Linked DNA regions of Homo sapiens. The protein of the gene in region 2 purifies or fractionates together with the protein of the main gene of each other region. This does not show direct contact. Each region holds a gene or a part of one and is shown on either strand. Other genes may lie near its edges.

The links. The genes of interacting proteins can lie anywhere in the genome.
Region 1: the proteins of SLC10A2 (region 2) and ACSL6 purify together in Homo sapiens (affinity purification with mass spectrometry; one large-scale study listed by BioGRID and IntAct). This does not show direct contact.

The regions. Positions count from the first base shown.
Region 1 is NC_000005.10:131,966,659-131,970,158, reverse strand, and holds part of ACSL6 (long-chain-fatty-acid--CoA ligase 6), read left to right. Parts: coding exon 1-31; intron 32-2,130; coding exon 2,131-2,219; intron 2,220-3,500. UniProt on the Homo sapiens protein: Catalyzes the conversion of long-chain fatty acids to their active form acyl-CoA for both synthesis of cellular lipids, and degradation via beta-oxidation.
Region 2 is NC_000013.11:103,043,498-103,046,457, reverse strand, and holds the end of SLC10A2 (ileal sodium/bile acid cotransporter), read left to right. Parts: intron 1-197; coding exon 198-325; 3' UTR 326-2,460; downstream 2,461-2,960. UniProt on the Homo sapiens protein: Plays a critical role in the sodium-dependent reabsorption of bile acids from the lumen of the small intestine. Transports various bile acids, unconjugated or conjugated, such as cholate and taurocholate.

The sequences.
Region 1 (3,500 bases), on a different chromosome or scaffold from region 2:
ACCTTCACCACTCCTGGCGACTGGACCTCAGGTAGGATGGGCTAGAGATATAGGACTGGCTCGCGAGGCACTGTGGAGTAAAAGCAGCCAGCTCTAAAACTCCCTCATGGAAAGTAAATTTGCATGGGTACTTAGGAATAAAGCAAAAGAGACAGAAAAAAACATTAATGGTGGTTATGTCTGGGTTGTGGCATTGTGAATCTGTAAACACTGTTGAGGTTTTTCCCTTTTTTATTCATCCTTAACACACTGGAAGAATCTGGTCTAAATTTGGTGAGTAATCCATGGGCTACCCACTACAGCCCTGCTTTCCCTTGGCCCTGAAGGATGAATCTCCTCAGAATGAGGGTGTGGATGAGAGCTGTTCCTTTTTGAGGTTGCCGCTGCCTTTGAGACATTGATATCACAGGAGAACGTAGTTCTCAAAGGGCCTCTAAAATGGCCCTTTAAGAAACAGTACCCTGGCCCCTATGAACCTGCCTCTCCTTTACACGTCAGGTCCAATTCATAGCCTGCTTCCTTCATTCTAAAATACTATAAGCAAGGCCATGTAGTATCTAGAATCTATAAAAATCCAATATACTGATATTATAAACATTTTTCCATCTGGAGTTGTATCTTGTGATCTATTACTTCTTTTGTGCATAACTTCTATTTAGCTATAAAAGAAATAGGAAAATACTAAAACCTGTGACAAAAAAAAAACACAATAATCTCCAAAGGTGGTTCCTGTGGGAGATCTGCCAGCAGCAAATTGATTAAATAACTTATTTACAAAATAGGTTTTATTCAACTATAATTTTAAAAGACAGGACTAAGGAAAAAATGCTTCTATACTTAGCTTGGCCAAATATGATTTCAGTTTAAAATCCACCTATCCTGTTTCTGCTGACTATCTCAAGGTACTCTGAAAATAATATTGCATTAAACAGCATATTTCTTTCACATGCACATCATCCTAAAATTTTCCAGTTTGTAGCTGAGCAAACTTAAGTACAAAGAGTGGCCCCAGGCTTGGAAAGGAAGTCAGTATCCTGAAGGATTCTTTTGCTGAGTGGTTTTCAGCAAAAGGGGAAACAGGTCTGTAGTAGGCAGCCCATGGATTACCCATCAGATGTAGAGCAGATTCTTCCAGTATCTACCCTCATGTATCCCTTCCTTTTGGACATGTATCTCTTCCCTCTCAAGTCATCCTTTACATTTTCCTATGTAAACACTGCTGAGGTTTTTCCCTTTTTCAGTTCACTCTTAGCATAAAACTTGAAAAGGCTTTTGTGTATAAGGATTGATATCTTTGAATAGTATTGCCAAAAATTTGACAGCCTCTCTTTTAAAAGAGAAACCAAGGTGGTAAGCCTCATTTTTCATATACGCGGCTCAATTTTCTTTCAGGACCTTGGCTAGCATCTGCTTAAAACTCCTCCAACTTGCCAGTGAATTATCTAACAACCACAATCACTAGAAAAATGACTTAGATGTAATTTTGTGGTAAATTTGACCAAGAGAATTTGGAGTCTTATTTTCATGGGGCAAGTTTCTTCATCCCAGCTTTCCATTCCTTTGTTATTCAACATGTGGTGTGGGACCAGCAGCAGCATCGCCTTGGTGCCTGTAAGAAATGTCGAATCTCAGGCCCCATTCCAAACCCAGTGAATCAGAATCCACAGCTTATGATTTCTAGATTTCCAGCATAGTAATCAACAGTCTGGTGGCTAGAGGAAAAGCAATGATTGCTATATTTTATGATCCCCAAACCAAGACGTGTGATCTGACAATGGGGAAAATGATTTAATGTGGCCACCATTTTCAAAAATCTTGACCCTGTGTTTGATGCCCCCCATCCTACCCTACCCAGGACCCTGTGCACGTTGGTGCTGGGCCAGGTGTGCCTGTCCTGCTTATTAAGAATCGGATGTAAAACAAATGCCCAGGCAGAGATTGGCCTTTGCTTTCTCCAGCACTTTGTTTTATTACCAACACTTGCAGTAACAAATGCCCCTTTAAAGATGTGTTACTTTCCATCCATAATTCCCCACTTTGGCCACTCAGAGATTTTAAGGGGCTTGGAACATCTTCAGTGCTAAAACAGATCTGAACACTAACAAATGCCATCTTGCTCCGGTGTTCCAGGGCACGTAGGGGCGCCACTTCCCTGCAATCATATCAAGCTCGTTGATGTTGAGGAACTGAACTACTGGGCCTGCAAAGGAGAGGGAGAGGTAAACAAGGATTTAGCCATTCATGCCTGTGGCTGCTACATGTAGTGAGTAAAAACAAGAACAGTAGGGATGGAATGATTTTCCTTTTGCCTTGTGTATAAAGTCATTTTAAACTACTGATTAATTTGACTCAGCTCAACTCAGCATCTCCTCTCCTGTTTATGAGGCAACCAAGAGCTAGTGCTGGGACTGAGCTGGTTTAAATAAAGATTTGGAATTCCCAGATTTTTAAATTAATTAATTATTATTATTATTATTATTATTATTATTAATTTGAGACGGAGTCTCGCTCTGTCTCCCAGGCTGGAGTACAGTAGTGTGATCTCTGCTCACTGCAACCTCCGCCTCCCAGGTTCACACCATTCTCCTGCCTCAGCCTCCCAAGTAGCTGGGACTACAGGTGCCCGCCACCACACCTGGCTAATTTTTTTTGTATTTTTAGTAGAGACGGGGTTTCACCGTGTTAGACAGGATGGTCTTAATCTCCTGACTTCGTGATCCGCCCACCTCGGCCTCCCAAAGTGCTGGGATTACAGGCGTGAGCCACCGTGCCTGGCCCTTAATTAATTAAATTTTTAATAGAGTCAAGGCCTTGCTCTGCCACCCAGGCTGGAGTGCAGTGGCGTGATTATAGTCCACTGAACTCGAGACCATAGCCTCGAACTCCTGGGCTCAAGCAATTCTCCTGCTTCAGCCTCTCAAGTAGCTAGGACCACAGGCATGTGTCACCTTGCCAAGATAACTTTTTATTTTTTTTTTAGAGATTGGGTCTTGCTGTGTTGCCCAGGCTGATCTTAAACTCCTGGCCTCAAGCAATCCTTCCTGCCTCGGCTTCCCAAAGCACTGGGATTACAGGTGCTAGCCATCATGCCCAGCCCCAAATTTTGTAAAAATTCATTTTTTCCCCTAACTGTGTCATGGCCTGCTGCTGTGTGATCTGTCCCAGCAGAAACATGATCCTTTACAAATAGGCCAGATGGAGTAGATAGAGCTGGCCTGTACTTGTTCATTCCATGGGAGTAAGTGGGAATGATTGCCTGCTAATGGAGCAGGGGGCTGAAGCATCCCTGGTAGAATCAGCCAGCCATCAATATCTGTGATGAGTCCCCATCAAGTGTCACAGAGCAGCATGTGGCCAAGGCCAGAGGGCTCCTGAGGGAGAAGAGATGACAAAGGCCTAGGGTGGCCAGGGCAGGGGGGAAAGATGGGGAGGATGTTGCTTGACAGAAGGCAGGAGACAGTTCAGATGGCTGCTGGCTGTTCCTTGTCCTCTGTTTCCAT
Region 2 (2,960 bases):
GGTCTTCCTGAAGTGCAGTCATCCCTCTCGCCATGAGTAGCCATAGAACTAAGAATGGTGATTTCTTTCTCTAAGCAGCCTCCAGTCTACAGAAAATGTGATCTGCCATGTGAATCATAGGTTATAATCTCTATGCAAAGTAATTTTGCAGTTTATTATTATAAAATTTACTTAACTGTCTGTGTATTGTTTTCTAGTTTATGTGGCATACAAGAAATGTCATGGAAAAAACAAGGCAGAAATTCCAGAGAGCAAAGAAAATGGAACGGAGCCAGAGTCATCGTTTTATAAGGCAAATGGAGGATTTCAACCTGACGAAAAGTAGACATCAAGTGGACAAAACAGACGAGTTCCAAATTACGTTCTTAAACCGTAACTATATTTAATTATTTGTTTTGGTAGGACAGTTGGCAGAAAAGAGTTAAAGTGAAAATTGGAATTTCATTGGAATTCATGTATTGGTTTCAGTACCAAGTGACTGGTGGCCCAATTCTTTAATGGGACAAATATTGTTTCCTATATATATGTATATGTTTTATATATGTATGTATACTCATATAGATATATTGTCATTGAAATATTCCCCCAAAATATTCTCAGACTAAACCTGACATAGGGAACACCGAGAATGAAAACATCTTTAACACCAAAACTGAATTCTTATGCAGAATTTCCTAGCCCATAGATGACAACCTGACTTTCTGTATGTTAAAGTAGATGTAATGAATTATTATTATTACAGTGGTCACGATTTTCTTCAGTGTTTATGATTATAAAAATTGACATGAACATCTTTCACTGACATTTTAATCATTATTTTAAAAGCTTTGCAACCTATATATTTATATAACTTTGTAATATAACATGGGCAAATATCTGACTTCTGTATTTTTAAAAAGTTGCCTTCTCCAGTGGCAGTCCAAAAGCAGAAATGAGAGGAAATTATTACAAAATAGAATTCAATAACCATATTGGATGCAGGCTCTTAACTCAGCAGGGATATCGTACATCTATTGCTCTACCTCAGGGGTCCAGTGATACCCACTAGATCTTCCAAGGAAAAACATAATTCTTTCAAACGGTGTGTATTTGGCAAAGAGCTCTTCAAATCTGGGAGAGGGACTTCCTCAAGGTTTTCCTGTGTGCAGTGGATCCACATAGCTAATATGACAGCTAGTCAGTTGACAGGGACCACCCACAGTAAGCACCATGGTCAGGGAGGTGGCAGGAGGTGCAAAGACAGAAGTATTGAGAGAAACACCAAGACTCTAGTGGAGGAATTAATTCAATGGGAGATAGTATAAAATACATAGAAAACACAAGTAACAGAAACCTGGTTGAAATGCTTAACTAGAGTCAATTAGATGTGCAGGAGTAAGTAGTATAAGAAGAATCAAGTCCGAGAGTGATCAGGAAATGAGTATTAAACAGTATTTGAAACAGAGAACGTGTCCCAGGGCCCAAAAGTCAGAAGGGCCCCACCAGCCAGGAAAGTTGTTTCAATGCTGTAAGTAGGTGTAGCCAAGGGAAGCCAGGACTATCTGATATACGGTAGCAGGGGTTTACGGCTGCCAGGGGAAAATAACTCATCAAGTGTTGGACTTTCAATTATAAGATCGAATTTAATTTCCTTTCCCTCATTCTGCAGCAATCAGAATACACAATCTTAACCACTCGGTCCTTAGTGGTTTTGTTCCATTTTGCATTGGGTATTTTCACTGCCTCATAGAGTCTATTTCAAGTGTTTTGGCTGAAAGGGCTTTTTGCATTTGCATGTTCTGAGTTCAGATTCTGCTGGTGCACCCAAGCATTATGGGAACAGGAACTCAACTTAGCTCTTCCAGTAGAGGGGTGAGGGATTCTGCTTTTCAAATTCATAACATTGATCTTTTTATGCAAGATTTCCATTTACAGTTGAATAAGTACTTCATATTTTTCCATCATTAGACAAATACAAAATGGACTAAATAATTTTAAGAGATAGTGGAGGAGAGGGGGTACAGACTTCCTTCTTAGAGAGTGTCAGAGAATATGCTCCCAATGGTGGAAAGGAAGATTTACAGTCTAGCGGCTAAGTACCTCCTACACATTTCCCATCAATCAGAAAATAGACAGGTACACTAAAGGGACCCTGAGAACTCCTCTTGTAATTTCAACACACCCAAAATCAAGGGCCTGGATGCCAGCAGCTGCAGCAAGCAGGTTTTTCCTCCCTGTTGAGCAAGACAGGTGAGCAAGATAGGACTTGGCTTTCTTACATGATGCGGTAACTTGTGACTTGAGTCTTTTTCCCTAATTTGCTAGTGGGAAGAAAAATAGCTGAGCTTTCTAAAATGATAGCTCTCTATTTTTAAATGAATTTGAAAAGTCGATTAAATTATGTATTTTATTGCCTCTGAGTATCATATTAAATGAATATTTTATTTTAAAGGCTTAAATAAATGAAAATGATTTTTGTAATGTTTGGTCTAGTTGAATCTTTGTGACTTGTGTCAAGATTTTCTCACTGCTCAGTTCTAGAGATACAAATAAGGTGGAGTTTCTCAGATATTAAATTGTTCTTTGAAAGGTGCCTGAAAGAAACTCTTAATTAAACACTCTCATAATTCGGTCTCCCACTGATACTGACTGGGATTTTCCTCCAGAAAATCATACAGGGGGAACATTAATTAAATACTCTTAAAAATAGTTTGACAATGATAGCTGATTTAAAATAATAATGAAAGTATTTCATGAACTTACAAATGAAGCCACCATCTTCTACGAAATGGTGATGTATATACATATATATACACGTGTGTGTATATTTACACACATACACAATGATAGCCTATTTAAAATAATAAAAGTATTTCACGAACTTACAAATAAAGCTTTCACCTCCTACAAAATGGTGATAAATGATATATGTATATTATACATATGACATATATATAATATTATATATGTCACATATATTA